Linked DNA regions of Homo sapiens: all the other regions are reported to be linked to region 1. Evidence: microRNA targets listed by miRTarBase, many of them from high-throughput screens and not tested one by one. Region 1 holds a microRNA gene; each other region holds the end of a gene's coding sequence.
The links. Region 1 holds the annotated microRNA hsa-miR-3150b-3p (UGAGGAGAUCGUCGAGGUUGG, at 3,048-3,068, opposite strand). A microRNA usually pairs through its seed, bases 2 to 8, with sites in the 3' UTR of a target mRNA and lowers its output. Matches are read on the target gene's strand: a 7mer-m8 pairs with bases 2 to 8, a 7mer-A1 pairs with bases 2 to 7 and ends in A, and an 8mer does both.

Region 1 (4,118 bases):
TCTCAAAGCAGTTTAAAATGTTCTTGATGTTACATAATGAGTTAGAAACCTGTCCAGCCACATACCAGATGCATAGGCTGGGGCTGGGACAAGTTACTTGACCAATCTGGACTTCCATTATTCATGACTCCAGGAGCTCCTTCACTCATGAACTGTGTACCTAGACAGAGACACAGCTCAGGGCAGGCATTTTTATTACCTTTGTGTCCCAAGGAGAGGGCCTCCTTTTTTGAGAGGCATAGCATATGGGACAAGAATGTGGTTCTGCAGCTGGGCAGCTTGGGTTTATATGCTGGCTCCTCTACTGCCTACTGATTGACCACTAGCAAGTTATTACATTTAACCTCTCCGTGCCTTCATTTTCTCATCTGTAAAATGGCCTAGTGATAGTGCCTACTTCCTAGAATTATCATGAAGGTTAAGTTAGTTAATAATTGTAAAGTGCCGAAAATAGTGGCTGGCACTTACTAAGTGTACATATGTGTTTGCCATTTTAATCTATTTATATACATACTGTGTCACTTTCAGAGAAAACCAGGTCACTAGATTTTATCTTTTGGAATATTGCTAACATTAAGCTTTGAAATTTGATATTTTCCATCTTGGATGCTTTAAGATTTCAGGTTATCAAACAAATTTAAGAAAGTAAACACATTTTTACTTCTTCTAACTTCAGAGAATGAGCTTCTAAAAATGAGTGTTGAGTTTCTTTCCACTTTGGATTATGAAATTAAAAAGATATACATAAAACAAAACAAAAATCACATAAAAATCCATGAATTCAGAAGCTATATTTGAAATAAACAGGCTAGATGGCAGATAATATATACTAAAACCATTAACGTCACACATAAGGATTATAATATATCAACAACTTCAAGCTGGGCAGAGAATTTCTGGTATCACAGTTCACTTCTATGGGTCTTTGCTTTGCAATTCAACTGAAATTAAAAACAGAAAAACTCTCTATTGGTTTTGAAGCATATCTCCCATGATTTTTTTCCTATTCCCCTCCCCTCCCCGAGTCATCTGCCCTTTATTACTTGCCTTGGTCAGAGGGAGAATATAATTTTAGAAAAACACAAGCAGTAAAAAGCAATTTCTATACCAAGGAAATAATAATGGTGATAATCCAGATCACATAGAAATTAAATCTACTTTCCTAAACAGTAAAACCAGCTAGCTTTGCATGTGTTCATACCATATGATTAATATTAAAGCATAAGGCAACCGGCCGGGCGCGGTGGCTCAAGCCTGTAATCCCAGCACTTTGGGAGGCTGAGGTGGGCGGATCACGAGGTCAGGAAATCAAGACCATCCTGGCTAACACGGTGAAAACCCGTCTCTACTAAAAATACAAAAAAAAAAAAAATTAGCCGGGCATTGTGGCGGGCGCCTGTAGTCCCAGCTACTCGGGAGGCTGAGGCAGGAGAATGGCGTGAACCTGGGAGGTGGAGTTTGCAGTGAGCCGAGATCTCACCACTGCACTCCAGCCTGGGCGATAGAGCGAGACTCCGTCTCCAAAAGAAAAAAAAAAAAAAAAAAAAGCATAAGGCAGACACTACCAGCACTGCACCCTCATTAGCCAGCCAGCTTTGCAGACTCACCACCCCCACAGGCTGTCCTGGAGGTTCCTACGCCTGCAGTGGGAGCTAAGAGGTCAGCTGTTGCCCCAGAGCCGACCCCAGTAACCTTTGCAGCTTCCCTGAGGGCTTCAGGGACCTGCACCCTGTTTAGTGGGCACAGAGAAAATGGCTCATGTCCTGGAAATACCCAGCCTGGCTCCATTGGGCTGTAAGTAGTTCCTGGCAAAATTCCTCATTAGGTAACAATTTGGATGGTGGTGGAGATGTGTCCCTCCTACTTTACCCAAGAGGTGGTAGCGGTGTGGCCTGTGGGAATTTTGAGGGCAGCGGGCAAAAGTCATTCCAGTCCCAGGGCTCAGCTCCAGCAGCGCCCAGGGGCATCTCAGAAGCAGCTACATCATCATCTGTACCACCCCACGCCCTGTGCTTGTTTAGGGCTGAGATCCTATTGGGAGGCATTTGGGGAGGAGGTGAGCTGCGCTGGCAGAAGGTTCAGGGCCGGTCACTGGGGATTTTCCTGCCACTCACATCCCCTTCTTTCAAGTCTTCTTTAACTCTGCACAGATGGGAGTAACAGAAGATGCTGGTTTCCACCTCATCATTTTTTACCTTCTCACCCCCAGAAATTAATCTTCGCATAAACCTCAGGACCAGCACAATGCCTGTCTCAATAAAATGTTAGTTTCCTTTCCTTCTGTATCTCCTGCCTTCCCCTTCCTGGCCACCTAAGACACAGGGCCGTTATGTTGCGGTGCCCTACTTCGCAGCACCCCCAGACCTGCCCAGGGCTGCTCCCCATGCCAGAACCCTCCCTGTCCCCTAAGAACCTGACTATCCTTTGTTTCATTCCCTAAAAGCCTTACTTTTCAAGGCTGAGGCTGCAGCATCCTTTATACTGGTATACACTTTCATGTTTACAAGTGTCATTGGGCATCTACTGGTACTCATCTTAGTTACCCTTGTAACAGAGCCCTTAGATGTCAAACCAAAGCAGTGACTGACACTGAGATTTGTGGCTGCCTGGGTAGGTAGAGAAGAGAGAGAGAGTAGAGTTGACCATGTTTCTCAGCTCACAAGTTCCTATGATGGCTTGGAACCCTGACCAGCATTTTCTTCTGAAGCAACACCCTCGTGGTATGTTCAGCCTTTTTCTAGATCTCTCCAAGACAGAGAAATACTTGTTGCTCCTGCATTGAGGTTGGGCAGATGGGCATTACTGGGGCACTAGTGGCCAAGTTGCCCTGATCCACCCACCTGAGACCAGGTATGTGTGTGGTGGTGCAAGCCACTGCTTTTTCAGGCTGGTGCTGCTGGATGAGAAAGTCCCAAAGTTCTATCATTGAAGGAGCAGCACAAGAGTGAGGACAAATACCTTCACAGGCAGCAAGAAAGTGGTACACAGCAGGGAGGGCAGTGGGCACCTGGGGGAAGAGCAAGGCCCGAGGAGTGAGGGGAAGCAGGCCAACCTCGACGATCTCCTCAGCACCTGAACGCCAAGGCTGGGGAGATCCTCGAGGTTGGCCTGCTTTCCCTCCTTTTCTTACAACTTCTGGAGAAGCGTCAGCCCTCTGCAGGGAGGCGGCCAAGCTGGCAGGCGAGTCGGCGAGGGTGTCATTGCTTATATGGCTGCGGGGACCGAAGCTAGGAATAGACGCGCTGAGGGCTAGGAGGGCTCCGACCGGACGGAAGGATGCCGCATCGCGGGTCGCTGCCCGGAGCTGTGCGAGTTCGGTGCTCAGCCCCAACGGCGCTTTAGGCGGGTCCCCTAGGTTCTCGCCCTTGCGCGCGCAGCCAGGACAGTGTTTCTGCGCTTCCTGAGGCCAAAGCGGGTCTCCCCGTTTTTTCCTCTGGGGATGCCAAAAGCCACTGGAAAAGACAGGAAGCTGTCGCCCCGTCGCATTCTCAGCAAGATGAGGCCGAGTAGGCAGCGCCACCTCTCCCGAGCGCCCGCGCCCCGCTGCCCCAGCCGGGGAGGGACTGGAGGTGAAGTCGCAGGTGCGCTCCCCAGGGAATATCCGGGCTCGCAGACCACGCGGCACCGCCCCCGCCTCGCCCCGCTGCTCCTCCTCCCCCATTCCAGGTGTCTCCTTTTCCGCTTGCCCCTTAAACGTCCCCCTTCCGCAGGGGTCCTGCGAACCCCATCCACTGCCATGGCTCATTCTAACACCTTCACTGGGTGTCTTTTTGCATAACACTTAAAATAAAAATGGATCTGAATCTGATCCCGGCTTCCAGCTTACAGGACATGTCGAGGACAGAGGCACAAGTGAAAGTCCACCCAAGGAATGCAGTCAGCAAAGCCACGGTGTGGGGAGCTCTCTCCAGAGGGTAGGGGAGAAACCCAAAGAGTAAAAGAGACTTTAAAACCTGCCAACCAATCCCAACCTGATGTCCTAATTTGAATCCTGATTCAAATCAACTGCTTTTAATGGAAACTTAAAACTTTAGTGGAAATTTGAACCTGACTTGATATTTGATATAAGAAACCATAGTTAATTTTTTAAGGCATGATAATGGCATTGTGCTTATTTT
Region 2 (4,117 bases), not on the chromosome of region 1:
ATATTTTCAATTGAAGGTAGTTTTTCCACATGCACATCTATGCTCATTAGCAAAGGATGTAGTGCACCTCCCTGACTACTTTAGGATTTCCTTTTCAGATTTTATGGAACTTGTTAACCTCTGGAATGCCTAAGTTTAAATAAAAATATTGTTTTGAGTTTATATTGAGCTATATATTTTATCTGTATAATCTATTATATATGTATTGCATAGAGTTTATATTGAGCTGTATATAATAGCCAATATTTGGGGCTCTATGCTTGGAACATTTTAAGAAAAATATTCTATTTTGATTATATGGTCCAGGAATTAATCTATTTTTATTTTTCATTGCAGATGGAGTCGGGTGGTACAGTTTTGAGTACCAACTGGTCTGATGTAGGTAAAAGGAAAGTTGAAATCAATCCTCCTGATGATATGGAATGGAAAAAGTACTAAATAAATTAATTTGCTCTCATCGTATTGTGTATATTCACCTAATGCCCATTGTGTATTGATATTGCATTCTTGAATTTTGAACACTGAATATCTTTTTGAAAGATTATACTTCTTTACCTCTTTGTGCTTTAGAAATTATTTTCCTTCAAGTGTTCAAGTCTAATGAAGAATGAAGATAACATTTTATCACTTCTGTCCTTAAAGGTTTCAGACATGGTGAAACTGAATAAAGCATGTCATTTGCTCCTAGATAGATTCATTCTATCTAGTTGTGGGGATGGAGAAATCTTTAATGGTATATTTTCGGTTATTGCCTTATTTTTGATACAGTATTCTGTCAGTAATTTATTAGACCTGGCAGCTTTGGGTGAGCTTAGATTTTTCACCTTCAGTGTTACATTGTGTTTGCTTTTAAAAACTGCTTTTGAATGGAGTTGTAAATACAATTTTTCTATGAAGATGTTTGGTTTATTTACCTTTTTCTTAAGTTTTTAATGAGAACTTTGAGAAATTATCACAGGGAATTCCCATGTAGTTCTTTTAATGGGAAGAATTTGTAAATTTAATTGCACTGAGATATTTTGGTCGTTACCTTGCAAGTTTCTGTATAAAACATAGATACCTGAGTTTTAACACACTGCAAGTTTATACTAAGGATAATCTGTGAAGGTAGGGCAAAGAAGGTTCTAGGAAAGCCCAACTCCACTTGCTTCTTTTATCACGACAGGATTCTTGAAATTACAGCATTGGTGGGTTTTTTGGTATTTTTTTTCTTTATTAGAAAATCTCTGTTGTCACGTCCCCATGATTACTTTGGTTTCATTGGTTTATGGTAACTGCTGTGAGAGTAAATTAATGTGTATATGTTTAGTATTTACTCTGTGCCTAGAATATATAGATATCATGAGAATACAAAAAATTAAAGACATGATTATTAACTTCAAAGAGCTTATAAATGTAGCAGGGAAAAAAAATAACATTCATGAAGGAACTGTGGAAAGATTGAATGCTGAACTCGGTATAAATACACTTTAGAGACAGGAAAATGTTCTGTGATTAAAATTGTTTACAGTCTAGGCTGTTATAAAGTATAGACTATGGATGACCTGTAGATCTGACTTTGTTTTCTCACCATGATTTTCTCAACTGTAATACCCCAGATGTTGGTCTCAGCTCTGTTAGGTGTCACTAACATTTTTATGGCAAAGCACTACTCTATACCCTCAGAGCAGGGGGAGTGGGAGGCAAACGGGTCATCATTTCAGCCTCCAAAACAGTAGGAATTCAGCTCCTTCCTTCTCGTCCTTTGTTGTGGGGTGTAGGGGAGTTACTAAGGAAAGTTTCAGTAAGGTGATACCAGATGGTGCCCAAACCTGTTGTTATAGCTTGTTTAAGCATTCTAGAGTTTTCACTTGTCCTTCTGTCCACTTAGAGCTACTAGATACATTTTTTTCTTCTTGAACACTGAAGGAAAAGGCAAAATTAAGTTTTGGTTGGATGGATTTCTAAAGTTTTCTTCTTAGGAAAATAGGATAGTGACTTTTGTATTCTGTATGTTAAATTTTCTCAGTACCATTAATCCTAAGATGAAGAGGAAGGCTATTGCTGCAGAGGCATAGTTGAGGACGTATAGCACTATACCAGAGACAAGAATGCTTAGCTCTAGCAAGTCTTCTGTCATTGACTACCTTCATAATCTTCAGCAGGTTTAGGCCTTTCTTAGTTCCTTTGTAAATAATCCATAGAGTCTTAGAGTTATAATTAAAGGTCCATGGTTCTAAATACAGAAGCATATTTTTGCCGCTTAACTTTTTCTTTCTTAAAGATGACACTATTAAAATAGCTGTTTCTGACCAGGTGCAGTAGCTCATGCTTGTAATCCCAGCATTTTGGGAGGCGGAGGTGGGCAGATCACCTGAGGTCAGGAGTTCAAGACCAGCCTGGCCAACATGGTGAAACCCTGTGTCTACTAAAAATGCAAAAATTAGCTGGGTGTAGTGGCATGCACCTGTAGTCCCAGCTACTTGGGAGGCTCAGGCAGGGAGAATTGCTTGAACCGGGAGGCAGGGGGTGCAGTGAGCCAAGATCATGCCACTGCACTCCAGCCTGGGCGACTCCATCTCAAAAAAAATAAATAGCTGTTTAAAAAAAAAAAATCTGGTACTATCTTTAGTTGGTTTTAAAGGATATATTATCTAGAATATGCTTACCCATTGGCTAGATTTGCTAAGTGTTGTGGGATTTGGGATTTTGCTGGTCTGAAGGGAGTTTGTAAAACACATGACTGAAAGCATTATAAAACATACCTTGTCAAATACATTAGATTCATTATAGGTCAAGGGAATTTTGAAAAGTAGGCTAGATTGCTGCCTAAGAATCCCACTCTAAAGTACTGCTTTGTTTAATCATTCTAGATAATGGAAGCTTGTAAGCCTCCAGAAAGTTAAAACAAAAAACTTCTTTCTGATTAAGAGCCTCTTAACTCTATCCTTATCCTCTGCTATCTCAATGTAGCTATTAATTGTTCCCTCTTTGTTTCTAGACTCCAATTTTCATTTCTCAAATTTTGGTTCTCAGTGCTGTTAGTATTAGTAGCCTTTTGTTTCTTCAGAATGTATGTATTTTTCCTCTTAAATGTTTCCTTTCCCTTTTAAGGTTAGTCCTGGAATACATGTTTTTCTTGGTCTTGTAGACTTCATCTCTTCTGATTTCCATAATAATTTGCACCTTGATGAATCCAGAATTCTCCCACTGTCTTCAAAGAATCTTGAATAGAATAATCTGCTTTTTGAACTCTGCTATCTAGTAATCTCTTTAGATATCTATACCACAAGTTTGAAACATCAAGGTCAATTTTGATAATTTCCTGTCTTATGTCTTAATACCCATTCAGAGTTGACTGCCAACTAACAAGCTCAGCCTTTAGCACTGGCACTTACTGGCCAATCTGTTTTCTGTCTATAGGGAGTGAAATGGAATGGAGAAAGAGGATGGCTTGCATTAATAACTCTAGTTTTTAAAAACATTTTTATTCCTTTTTTAAAAATTTGTTTAGAGACACGGTCTTCTTCTATCACCTAGGCTGGAGTGCAGTGGTGCGATCATGGCTCACTGTAGCCTCCAACTCCTAGGCTCAAGTAATCCTCTTTCCTCGGCTTCCCAAAGTGCTGGGATTACAGGTGTGAGTCACTGTGCCTGGCCCACATTTTCATTCTTGGCTCACTGTAGCCTTAATCTTTCAGGCTCAAATGATTCTCCCATCTCAGCCTCCCAAGTAGCTGGGACCACAGGCATGCATCACCACGACTGGCTAATTTTTGTATTTTTTTTGTAGAACCGGGTTTCACCATGTGCCCAGGCTGGTCTTGAACTTCTGGGCTCAAGTTATCTACCTGCCTCAGCCTACCCAAAGTGCTGGGATTACAGGAGTGAGCCACCATGCCCAGTTATGAACTTCAAGTAAATATTTAAAATGGAGATACATCACAATGCTATTATGAATAATTTAGATAGAAATTTTAATTTAGTTCAGTACTTAAATATTTTTTGGCTCTTCTTTCCCACTTTACCTTTCTCTATTCCTTCCTCAGTTATCTACATATCAGATTAGATTATTGATATCTGAGATATATCACTGACCCAGAGCAAAATTGCATATTAGTTTACCATCTAATCAGCC
Region 3 (4,104 bases), not on the chromosome of region 1:
GGGCTTCGAAAGCTTGAGTCACTGCCCAGGGTCATCTAGCAGGAAAGTACATGAGCTGGGGCGACCTCTAAAGCCCAGCCCTTTATGCGACACCTGGGCCTGGTGCCCTCATCCTACCTGGGCCCCGCCTGGCCCCTCAGCCTTGTGCCCACCGCAGGTGCCTGATGGCTTCATCTCCCATTTCTACTCCGTATCGGAGCATGTGAGCCCTGTCCTAGCCTTCGGCTTCCTTGGACCCAAGCCTCAGCTTGCTGAAGTCTGTGCTTTCTTCAAGGTAAACAGAGAGCAGTTCTCGTTCTTTCCTGACCCTTGCCCTGAGCACAGGCGCCCTGGGAGGTGCCAGGAATGGGATGAGGGCCTGGGCCTGGGCCTGCTCCCAGAGAGAGGGCAGAGCCAGACCCACATGGGTCCAGAGGAAGCAGTGGGAGGGAGGAGCCTGGGGATGGAAAGGACCGGCTGGGGCTCTGGTGGTGGACAAGGGGACTTCAGGTAACCTGGGGGGCATCATGGTGGGCAGTGGCTGGGCCAGGCCTGACACCAGCCCTGCTCCCCCAGCACCAGATTGTGCAGTACCTGAGGGACATGTTCGACCTGGACAATGTGCGCTACACGTCACTGCCCGCGCTGGCAGACGACATCCTGCAGCTGTCCCGGCGCCGCAGCGAGATATTGCTGGGGTACCTGGGGGTGCCCGCGGCCAGCAGCGCAGGCGTGAATGGGGCGCTGCCCCGAGAGAATGGGCCCCTGGGGGAGCTGCAGTAGAGGCGGCACGGGCTGGGGGGTGGCAGAGAGAAGGCTCCTCCTCCCTTCCCTGGGTTGGTATCTGACAGCTGTGGTGGCTGAGGGCCGTTGCCCCTGACTTTGCCCCACCCCCATCATCTGGGAGTCCCCAAGGCCCAGAGGGGACATTTCCATGGAGAAGAACGGTTCCTGGGGGAAGCAGAGGCCAGGACCAGTGGGGCCTGTGGGAGAGAAAGGCTGTGAGAGAGGGGGTTGTTGTGGAGAATTGGGACAGGCAGAGCCAGGATGCCCCAGGTGGGGGACCCCAAAACCTCCCATCGCTCCAGGGCTGCTGACAAGGGTGCTGGGAGGGTGGAGGTGAAGGATGGGGCCTAGAGCCCTGTGGTGAAGGTCACAGTGTCCTGAGCTAGAAGCCACCTGTGGCTATATGGTCTCAGCATCCAGCTGGCCTGTCCTGATGCCCTCCCCACCTCAACCGCCTTCTCAGAGAGTTTGCAACTCCAGAGAAGGAGAGTGGGGCCACCTTAGTGGGCAGCAGGCCTGGGCCATCCAGAGATGGGGCAGAGGTGGGCCTCCCACTCCTGTGCTCTCTTCTGAGCAGGAACTGGGCCCTTGACAGTGTCCTTTGACATTCCCTCGCCCTACCAAAGATCGTCTTTTCTCCTCCCACCTCTGTCACCACCAAAGACGGGCGGAGGTGGGGCTGGGCCCTCCTGCCCCCGCCCATCCCCCTTCCATGAGCCCAGACCTCCCTGGGTGGTGCTAGGCTCTGAGCTGGGGGCTCAGACCAGGGATCGCTCAGGCCCCTGTCACCTGTGGGCCCGGGGACCACTTGGGGGAGGTCAGAGGATGTATGTGGCCGGACCAGCTTCCCCACCTTCATTAGGACAAGAAACTGCCCAGCACTTTGCCTTCAGTTCAACGCACAAACGCTCCTGGGGCCTCATGGGGGCAGAGCCTCCCCTGGGCCTGCAGAGAGTCCTGTTAGCAGCGACGTCCCCCCGCCGCGGGGTCCTGTCAGCCCGGCAGTGTCTTCTCAGTGTCTTCACCTGAGCGAGTGTCTGTGGCCCCAACGCGTTCTGCTGTGGCTCTGCCCTTTCCAGGTTGAGAGGCCTGCAGGAGAAACACACTCCCCTCCTGGGTTTCCACACTCAGGAGGTCAGAGGACTGGCTCCTGTGACCAGGGCCCCTCTCCCCTGAATGGGAAAGGGGTCTGGGGATGGGAGGGCGCACCACAGAGAGGAGATGATGCTGGGTGTGGCCCATCTTCTGTGGGCCCCTTCCCAGACACCGGATCCATGGGCACTAACCCGCCTCCCAGGCTGATGCCCGGAGGCAGCTTCCTGGGCAGGAGGGTTCCATGGGCACTAACCCACCTCCCAGGCTGATGCCTGGAGGCAGCCTCCAGGGCAGGAAGGACCCTGTGCTCCCCGCCCCCCATCCTGACATCCTGTTCTTTTGCACTTACCCTGTGCTGTGAATGTAACAGTGGGCCTTGGCCCCGCCCACTCTGATTTGCATTTTCATTTGTGTTTGTTTACACATCCATGCACTGCCTGTAGCAGTCGATTGTCACAGCTTCGACTTTTGGATGGTAGAGTGTGTGCACTGACTGTGAGTCGAATAAACAATTGAGACGATTTCCTTCCACTTTGCCATGTTGTTGGTTATGTGCATGGCTGTTTGCTTCTTGGGGCAGAGCAGGGCACCTGCTTTTTGGGGTGCCGTGGGTGAAGGTTCCAGGAGGACAAAGGTCAGGAGAAGCCTGGTGGGGGCTGTGATCCTACTTGGGGCAACTTGACTGCCTGACAGGATCCAGCCATCCCTAGGCAGGGAGGGCCCCGGTGGTCCGCGGGGAAGGGTGGGGAGCGGCCAGTGCCACGCTCAAGGCCATGGATGCAAGGTGGGCAGCCTGGCTGTGGACCCTGCTCAGGCACCATCTTAGGGAAGTCGATTCTCACTGGCCCTCAGTTTCCACATCTGTAAAATGCAGGCACTGGACCGGGCCAAGATGCAGACTCACAGGCTTAAAGGTTGTTACCCCCCAAGCTGTGAGAGCCAGGGGGAGGGGCTGGAACACTGGGAACAGGTCCAAGCCTGCCGGATCGTTACAAGTTTTCATGGGCAGCTGGAAATCACAAGTTTTATTTTACAGGTTTTTAAAAAAGAAACTTTAAAAAAAAATTTCAAATGTATGGAAAAATTGAAAAAACTATATAAAACCAACACTTCTGGTCATGTAATTAACATTTTGACTTTTTTTTTTTTTTCTTGAGACAGAGTCTCGATCTGTCACTCAGGCTGGAGTGCAGTGGCACGATCTCAGCTCACTGCAAGCTCTGCCTCCCAGGTTCACGCCATTCTCCTGCCTCAGCCTCCCGAGTAGCTGGGATTACAGGCACATGCCACCATGCCCAGCTAATTTTTTTGTATTTTTAGTAGAGACGAGGTTTTACCGTGTTAGCCAGGATGGTCTCGATCTCCTGACCTCGTGATCCGCCCGCCTCAGCCTCCCAAAGTGCTGGGATTACAGGCGTGAGCCACCGCTCCCGGCAACATTTTGCCATGTTTATTTCATGTATTTCCAAAATACTTTAGCCTAAGTTTCAGACATGTACTTTACTCTTAAACCTTTAAGCAGAGCTTAAAAACAAGGTAGTCACATTCTTGTAAGTGGGAGTTGAATGATGAGAACACATGGACACACTGCAGGGAACAACACACACTGGGGCCTGTCGGAGGGCAGGGTGTGGGAGAAGGGAGAGCATCAGGAAGAACAGCTAGTGGATGCTGGGCTTAATACCTAGATGATAGGACTGCTGGACACAGTGGCTCACGCCTGTAATCCCAGCACTTTGGGAGGCCGAGGCAGGTGGATCACTTGAGGCCAGGAGTTTGCAACCAGCCTGGCCAACATGGTGAAACCCGTCTCTACTAAAAATACAAAAACTTGGCCAGGCATGGTGGCGGGTGCCTGTAGTCTCAGCTGCTTGGGAGGCTGAGGGACGAGAAGTGCTTGAACCCGGTGGGCAGAGGTTGCAGTGAGCTGAGATCACACCACTTCACTCCATCCTGAGTGACAGAGCGAAACTCCATCTCGAAAAAAAAAAGAGAAAAAAAAACCTAGGCGACAGGATGATGTGTGCAGCAAACCACTGTGGCACATATTTACCTATGTAACAAACCTGCACATCCTGCACATGCACCCCTGAACTTAAAAAACAAAAAAACAAGGTCATTCTCCAGAATAACCACAATACCATGATCACACCTAAAAAAAAAAAAAATTCTCGGGGCCAGGCACGGTGGCTCATGCTTGTAATCCCAGCAGTTTGGGAGGCCGAGGTGGGTGGATCACCTGAG
Region 4 (4,118 bases), not on the chromosome of region 1:
TAGGAAGTGGGGGGCAGGAGCTGGGATATGGTGACGGGGGCTCTCTGGGAGCAAGAGGAGCTCTGGCTGGCTGGGGTGGCCAAGGGAGGGTCGTTGTGACCAGGAGGCTGAGCTGCACAGCAGTAACACCTTCATGTCCCTTTCTCCCACAGAGCACTCGGCCGCAGCCAAGACGGGCGGCTGCTTCCCTGCCGGAGCCCAGGTACGCCTGGAGAGTGGGGCGCGTGTGGCCTTGTCAGCCGTGAGGCCGGGAGACCGTGTGCTGGCCATGGGGGAGGATGGGAGCCCCACCTTCAGCGATGTGCTCATTTTCCTGGACCGCGAGCCTCACAGGCTGAGAGCCTTCCAGGTCATCGAGACTCAGGACCCCCCACGCCGCCTGGCACTCACACCCGCTCACCTGCTCTTTACGGCTGACAATCACACGGAGCCGGCAGCCCGCTTCCGGGCCACATTTGCCAGCCACGTGCAGCCTGGCCAGTACGTGCTGGTGGCTGGGGTGCCAGGCCTGCAGCCTGCCCGCGTGGCAGCTGTCTCTACACACGTGGCCCTCGGGGCCTACGCCCCGCTCACAAAGCATGGGACACTGGTGGTGGAGGATGTGGTGGCATCCTGCTTCGCGGCCGTGGCTGACCACCACCTGGCTCAGTTGGCCTTCTGGCCCCTGAGACTCTTTCACAGCTTGGCATGGGGCAGCTGGACTCCGGGGGAGGGTGTGCATTGGTACCCCCAGCTGCTCTACCGCCTGGGGCGTCTCCTGCTAGAAGAGGGCAGCTTCCACCCACTGGGCATGTCCGGGGCAGGGAGCTGAAAGGACTCCACCGCTGCCCTCCTGGAACTGCTGTACTGGGTCCAGAAGCCTCTCAGCCAGGAGGGAGCTGGCCCTGGAAGGGACCTGAGCTGGGGGACACTGGCTCCTGCCATCTCCTCTGCCATGAAGATACACCATTGAGACTTGACTGGGCAACACCAGCGTCCCCCACCCCCGTCGTGGTGTAGTCATAGAGCTGCAAGCTGAGCTGGCGAGGGGATGGTTGTTGACCCCTCTCTCCTAGAGACCTTGAGGCTGGCACGGCGACTCCCAACTCAGCCTGCTCTCACTACGAGTTTTCATACTCTGCCTCCCCCATTGGGGAGGGCCCATTCCATCCATCTTAGGCCCCTTTGGGTGGGCTTGCGCCTCAGTTGATGCTGCTAAATTCCCTGGGAGCCAGCATGGATCTGGCTGGACCCGATGCTGTCCAGAACTGGGAAGGCCACAGGGGTGGGGCAGCCATCCCGGCCATTCTGAGGTATGACATTCCTCCCCGGCCACACTCCTCAAGACACATCCAGAGACTGTTGCTGTCTGTGGGCAGAGTTCTGTGTTCTGGCCAATGTGACCGTAGTGCCGGGGACTGGGGGAGGTGGGTTGGATGTGCTTGCCACCCCCCCGGCTAAGCTCCCCCTTCTGCTGAACCATGATCCCCACCCCCTCCGCCGGTCAGTCTCCCATACCTTATTTATTGGAGTGGAGGGGGAAGCCCATGGGAGAATTTTGGGGATGTTTTGGTCTTTTCTTCCTTTTGTAATAAAAATTATTTAAGTTGTTAGAGCCACAGAGTCCAGGATGCTCACAGATAGTTTGGAGCCCTGGAAGGTTGTGTCCAGGGTTTTCTCCCCTCCTCGGAGAGGCCTGGCTCACCTTCCTCCAAGGACAAAAACTCCAGGCCTCCCACCCTCACTGCAGGTCCATTCCCACCCAGTAGCTCTGCAAAGCCCCTACAGAGAGCTGTGCTCTGCACAGGGCAGGACCTTCCCACACTGACCTCACCATTTACCCCAAACAAGGATGGACCCGAGAGAGAACAGAGTTGACTAGTCCATGGTCACCTTACTCATCTATAACCATGCCCTTGTGCTCTCAGGGCCTGGGCTTCTGACTCTTCCCTGTTGGTAATGGACCACAGTGTGAAAAGATTCTGTAAAATTCACGTTGTCTTGTGGGCTATTCTGACTTCTCGGACAGGTCAGAGATCCCTAATCTAGCAGTTCTCAAATGTCAGGATCACCTGGGAAGCTTGTTTAAAGATGATTCCTGGCCCCACTTCCAGGATTCCACTTTTTTTTTTTTTTTTTTTTTTGAGACAGAGTCTTACTCTATTGGCCAGGCTGGAGTGCAGTAGCGCAATCTTGGCTCACTGCAATCTCTGCCTCCTGGGTTCACACCATTCTCCTGCCTCAGCCTCCTGAGTAGGTGGGACTACAGGCACACGCCACCATGCCTGGCTAATTTTTATTTGTATTTTTACTGGAGACGGGGTTTCACCGTGTTAGCCAGGATGGTCTCGATCTCATGTCCTTGTGATCCACCCACCTCAGCCTCCCAAAGTGCTGGGATTACAGGCAGGAGCCACCACGCCCGGCCCAGGATTCCACTTTAATAGATCCAGTGCAAAGCCCAGGAGCTTAGTTTTGCAAACACCCCAAACATGGCAGATGGTCCATGGGCCACACTCAAGAACTGCTGCTTAGTCCAGAGGAGGCCTGGTTTACTGCCAAGACAGCATGACCCCCTTCTTTACTTTCCCTCCATCTCTCCATCCCAAGGCAAGTTTTTCTATACTCGCTATAGATAAGCTGAGATTCTAGGTCCAGTGGTACAAAATTTTCAGGAGTTTTGTGAGTCAGTTGAAATAGGCACAGTGGCCATAGAACTCTGGAAACTGGCAGAGACTACCAATTAGGGTTTCCCCCCACCTTGGGGAGCCAGTTGTTGAAGTGTGCCACTGCCCAGGCTCTGCCCTTTTACACAGATGTCTGTGTTGAAAGTGGTGGGGATGACTGTTCAGACTCTTAGTTTACCCTGTCCTCACATCCACTGAAGAAAATGCCAGAGAAAACCATTATTCTGGGGTCTGTGTCATCTGGAGAAATAGGGCCCCACTGGCTGTACTGATAACTGCTATCATTTTTGATGACTAACCATTGCTAGGCATTATTCTAGATCTTTACACTCAGTAGGCCACTTAGTGCTCATAATGACCCTATGTGGTGTGTACTTTATTTAATATTACCACTTTCCAGAAAAGAACACAGAGGCACAGGGAGGTTAAGAAACTTGCCCAGGAGTACACAAGAAGCGACAGAAGCAGAATTTGAATCCTTCCAGACTGGCTCTTGGGTCCATTGTTTTTATCCCCAAGCTTTTCCCCTGGGGAACTCAGGTTCTCTCTGGTAGGTCGCACTCAGCATTTGAGGTCTGGAAATCTGCTTTGTCAACACATCTAGAGTGGACCCATCTCTCTGTGGCAGACTCTTACTGACCAGGCTCACAGGGACCAAAATGTTCATGAACTCATTCACAGTGAGAAATAACAGGCCAAGGTCAAGATGCTCTTGTCCATTCATTCACACATTCTCTCCATGTAGACATTCTACCTGGGAGATCAGATTGTGGTGACAAGTTGTTGGTGAGTGTGGATGCATGCAGTAGATGACTCTCCAGCTCATGGAGGAAGGAGTGGGGGGATGCCTCTCCTGCTGGGGTTGGGCACATGTGGTCCAGCAGACACAGAGCCATTTGGTGTCCTTAGACCTTTCTGTTCTAGATGGGCCTCCTCAGGGAACAAATTCATTCTTCAGACAAAGATTGCAAAGATTCAGCAAAGAACTTTGTACGAATTCAGGCCCTCAAAAGAACAAATTTGGGGTGGGAGTGAGACCCTACAGCTTTTCCTGGAATTCTGGGCCCAGATATGAAGAAACAAGGAGACAGTCTGGAGATCATCTTTCACATCTGCAGTGTGGTGGCCCAAATCTCTCCCATCCTCTGTACAGTGCTGAGACCCAGAGGAGGGTCATTTGCACCACCCAGACCCAGGCAGTGCAGATCCAATGCCTGCTTCTCCACTTGGGCCCAAGCTTAGCCCCCAAGGCTGCTGCATCCAGAACTGTGATGTTCGCTCATAGTCAATGCTTATTTTATTTTATTTTATTTATTTTTTGAGACAGGGTCTCATTCTGTCACCCAGGATGGAGTGCAGTGGCAAGATCTCGGCTCACTGCAGCCTCTGCCTTAGGTTCAAGCAATTCTCCTGCCTCAGCCTCCCGAGTAGCTGGGATTACAGGCGTGTGCC
Region 5 (4,118 bases), not on the chromosome of region 1:
GTGCAATGGCGCAATCTCGGCTCACTGCAGGCTCCGCCCCCTGGGTTCACGCTGTTCTCCTGCCTCAGCCTCCCGAGTAGGTGGGACTACAGGCGCCCGCCACCTCACCAGGCTAATTTTGTGTGTTTGTGTTTTTAGTAGAGACAGGGATGTTTTTATTTTAATTGGGACATTTCTTCTAAAGAGAGGATTTAAGTAATCATCTAATTATGTTAAACATGATGTTTGTCACTATCCAAACGTCAGCCTAGTAAACTATGTGGTGGGTCTCCATCAGACACAGAGACTGTAGAAGAAATTGCTTAGGTAAACAGAGCTTTTTGGTCTTTTCTTACAGATAACTATGCAAAAAATCAACAGCAGAAGAAATACCAAGAGGAGGCCATTCCAGCCTTAAGAGATATTTCTATTAGTGAAGTAAACCAAATGTTCTTTCTTGCAGCCAAAGAACTTTACACCAAAAACTGAACTGTGTGTAACCATAGTAACACCAAGCACGTATTTATTTATAAGTTTTTGCCATTATAATTTTGACCATAAATTAATTTGACCATCTCTCTTATTAATAGAGAAGTAAAAAATGTAAGTTGACCTTCTCTTAGATTATGTTCAATGAATATTGTAAATGTTCAAGTATTGTTAATGAATAGAATAAATACAATATTGCATTCCCATATAGCAGACTTAAAAAAAAAAATCAATGTCAGTATAATCAAGAAGTTCCTCCAGAGAGGCATTTATATTGTAATTTGCAAAGGGCAATGATGTCCTTCCTCCTGTTTGTCCTGAGGGGCCCAGAATTCAAACCCTTAGTTTTTGGGAAGGGTACAGTTAGTACTTGTGCCATCAGATTCATGTCTAAGACACAAATATTTGTTGAGTACTCACTGTGTACCAGGTATTTTTCTAGGCACTGAGGATGAAGTAATGGTAAGATTCTCTCTCAAAGAGCTTATAGTTTTAGAAGCAGGGTGAGGCAACTAAGCAAATAAACAAGGAAATATAATTTGATGAGTGCTATGCAAAGAATTAAGATAATGTATTCTAGAATGCAAAGGGATGACTAGTTCACATTGGGTGGTCAAGGAAGGCCTCTCAGAGAGAGGCTGTTGGGATCTAAGTATAAAGCAGGTGAGGCAAAGACCATAAGGTGGGAAGGAACTTGGTTTGTCCTAAGAACAGAGAGAAGACTGGCATTGGGCATAGAGCATACCAAACAAGAGAGAATGTGGTCCCAGGTGAGCCTGGAGAGACCGGGCCCAGATTGTGAAGGGCTTTGTAGGCTGGTGTAGGAAGTGTGGATTTAAGTGTAAGTGTGATGAGTTTGAGGCACTTTAGGATCAAGCTGTTGGGAGTCTTGAAGGAAAGGAATGACATGGCCTGATTTCTGTTTTTAAAAGTCATCCTGATTGGTGAATGAAGAATAGATTCAGAGGAGGAGCTGGGAAGGGGACAATAACCATATCCTTACCCAGTAAGCATGAGATGGATAACATGAATCTGCTTTTCCTGTTCCCTAGTTTGTCCCAGTTCCTGTTATTTTATGGTGAGAGCATGTCACCACACTTAAGAGCAGTATAAGGGGACTGGATGTGGTGGTTCATGCCTGTAATCCCAGCACTTTGGGAGGTTGAGGCAGCTGGATCACCTGAGGTCAGGAGTTGGAGACCAGCCTGGCCAACATGGCAAAACCTCATATCTACTAAAAATACAAAAATTAGTCAGGCGTGGTGGCAGGCGTCTGTAATCCCAGCTACTCGGGAGGCTGAGGCAGGAGAATTGCTTGAGCCTGGGAGGCAGAGATTGCAGTGAGCCGAGATCATGCCACTGCACTCCAGCCTTAGCAACAGAGCGAGACGGTTACCTTGGCAACCGTCTCAAAAAAAAAAGAAACAAAAAAAAGCAGTGTAAGGGAACCAGCGAACTCCACCAAGTATAGAATGATAAATAAATCATGGTCTGTTTCTACAATTGAACACTACACAGCCATGCAAACAAGAATGCATTACTTCTCTACCTAATAATATGAATTAATATGGCCATAACATTGGGCAAAAAAAGCCAGACACAAAAGAGTAAACTACTGCGTGGTTCCCTTTATTTGAAGTTCAAAATCAGGAAAAACTAATCTATGGTGGCAAATATTAGAATAATGGTTACCTTTGGAGAAGAGTATTATCTAGGAGGAGGCATGAAGGAGCCTGCTGGTGAATTGAAAATGCCCTACATCTTGATCTGGGTGGTGGTTATGGTTACATGGAGGTAATACATGTTTTTAAAAAATCATTAAGTTATTAAGATTTCTGCTTCTGATGCAAGTTACACCTCAATAAAAAGGGGAAAAAAAAACAGTGCCTATGCCTACCTCCAGAAAATGTTGATTCATTGGTCTGGAGTAGAGCACAGGCAGGGGTAATTTTTTAACATCTTCCAGATGCTTCCAATATGCAGCCAGGGTCGAGAATGACTCCCTTACATGATTGGACTCCCTTACATGATTGGACTCCCTTACATGATTGGACTCCCTTACATGATTGGACTCCCTTACATGATTAGACTTAACTGAGTTTTGGTCAAGCAGGGCAGTAGCTGTAAGCTTTGGAAGAGAAAGCCAGCAGTTATCCGAGCGGTTCCCTCCCATCTGTGAGACTCTTGCTCATGTCAGCAGTATTCCCTTGTCTTCCCCTCGGACAGGTGATGGGCCTGAGACGGGTTTGAAATAGGTCAGGATAGAACCTTCATGGACTCTAGTGTTCTATTGCACATTAAGCCTCAAATTAACTTTTCATTCTGGTTTCCAACCACTCTGTCCTTACAGGTCATGAAAGGAACACCAATGTTTTGCAAACTATGGGCAGCAGTGTTTTTGAGGGTCATGATCAGTTTAGTGTAGCAATTCTCTATCTTTTCTTAAGATCTTAGGACCCCTTTATTCTTGTAAAGAGTGAGAGCCCCAAAGACCTTTTGTGTATGTAGATATATTTAAAAATTAAAATAGAAAATTTTTAAATATTTGTTTATAAATAATACGTTACCTTTTAGATATAAAATTAACTCATCACATAATGAGAAACAAAATTTCTGTTACAGAAACATTTCACCCAAATCATTGTAGTAATACTAAGCTGATTCTAAAAGGACAAATTTAACATAAACATATTCATGAGAAATAACTATTTTCTAAAACAAAAAAATTCAGTGAGACAAGTAGAATTGTTTTACATTTCTCCAAGTCTCTTTAATGTCTGGCTTCATGGAACACAGCCGTTTCTCATATCTGCTTGTGCATTCAGTCTGTGACATTAGCGCCTGTCACGAAGCCTCTGGAAAGCTCCGCTGCATAGTCATGAGAGAACGAGGATGAAAAAGACAAAACATCTCAGCAGTATTAGGAAAATAGTTTTGACCTCATAGGCCCCCTGAAATATGGTCTTGGGACCCCCGGACTTTGAGAACCACTGGTTAGTGGGCCTCCACTAGTGTGTGTGTGATGAACTAGAATAGAATATGTCAGTGCATTGCACTCAGTAAGGGTGAATATTTTGACTGAACGTCTGTTTCAACCACTTCAGAGCCTCTCTGTTCACCTCTTACTCCAGCCACTGATGCCCCAAACAGTTCATGCAAATTTAACCACATCCACATAGGTGCCTCTTATAGTACACTCTGGAAGGAGAGGGGTTAACACCCACAGGACCAGCCTGGAGCCCAACCTGGGAGAGGTATCAGTGGATATACACATCCTTCTTTCAGCCCGGAGGAGACAGTTCTGCACTGCATTCCATGAGCTCCTCAGAAGGTCTCATGGGATTGAACTGCGGTTGCCACGATGGTGGTGGACTCAGCCCACGTGCTTGTCTGTCTGATGTGTTTTGCACCCTCTGCCACTTGGCCCTGCTCTCTGTGGTCACTTTCCCAGTAAATTGCCTGCACACAAGCCTTTGTCCCAGTCTCTGCTTTCAGAACTCCAGCTGAGATGTTTTTTGTTTTTGGTATTTTTGAGACAGGATCAAAGCTGGAATGCAGTGGTGCCATCATGGCTCACTGCAGCCTTGAACTCCCAGGCTCAAGCGATCCTCCCACCTCAGCCTCCCAAGTAGCTATGACCACAGGCATGC

Region 2: the mRNA of SUGT1 is a reported target of hsa-miR-3150b-3p. The part of its 3' UTR that is shown has no 7-base or 8-base seed match.
Region 3: miRTarBase lists MIGA2 as a target of hsa-miR-3150b-3p. Seed matches in the 3' UTR shown: 7mer-m8 at 1,401-1,407.
Region 4: the mRNA of IHH is a reported target of hsa-miR-3150b-3p. Seed matches in the 3' UTR shown: 7mer-m8 at 924-930 and 7mer-A1 at 1,317-1,323.
Region 5: the mRNA of PIGP is a reported target of hsa-miR-3150b-3p. The part of its 3' UTR that is shown has no 7-base or 8-base seed match.

Annotation. Positions count from the first base shown.
Region 1 is chr8:95,069,877-95,073,994 of GRCh38, forward strand. MIR3150B (microRNA 3150b) reads right to left here and starts at 3,120; the gene lies at 3,035-3,120. It overlaps MIR3150BHG (MIR3150B host gene), which reads right to left and starts at 3,306. Exons shown (of 2, transcript NR_132986.1): 1 at 3,053-3,306. MIR3150A (microRNA 3150a) reads left to right here and starts at 3,038; the gene lies at 3,038-3,117. It overlaps LOC124901980 (a long non-coding RNA gene), which reads right to left and starts at 2,377. Exons shown (of 2, transcript XR_007061013.1): 1 at 1,870-2,377; 2 at 773-941. It also overlaps a transcript of NDUFAF6 not described here. RefSeq lists a silencer at 3,513-3,612.
Region 2 is chr13:52,687,398-52,691,514 of GRCh38, forward strand. It overlaps SUGT1 (SGT1 assembly cochaperone of MIS12 kinetochore complex), which reads left to right. Exons shown (of 13, transcript NM_006704.5): 13 at 337-4,117. The coding sequence ends at 438. Among named protein-coding and RNA genes, the nearest start is that of SUGT1, 37 kb to the left of the region's middle.
Region 3 is chr9:129,069,692-129,073,795 of GRCh38, forward strand. MIGA2 (mitoguardin 2) reads left to right here. Exons shown (of 16, transcript NM_001329990.2): 15 at 158-274; 16 at 556-2,391. The coding sequence ends at 762. Among named protein-coding and RNA genes, the nearest start is that of DOLPP1, 9.4 kb to the right of the region's middle. RefSeq lists enhancers at 66-205, 1,153-2,102, 2,103-3,052.
Region 4 is chr2:219,051,900-219,056,017 of GRCh38, reverse strand. It overlaps IHH (Indian hedgehog signaling molecule), which reads left to right. Exons shown (of 3, transcript NM_002181.4): 3 at 153-1,594. The coding sequence ends at 811. Among named protein-coding and RNA genes, the nearest start is that of MIR3131, 4.8 kb to the left of the region's middle.
Region 5 is chr21:37,061,932-37,066,049 of GRCh38, reverse strand. PIGP (phosphatidylinositol glycan anchor biosynthesis class P) reads left to right here. Exons shown (of 5, transcript NM_153682.3): 5 at 338-676. The coding sequence ends at 468. Among named protein-coding and RNA genes, the nearest start is that of PIGP, 9.1 kb to the left of the region's middle.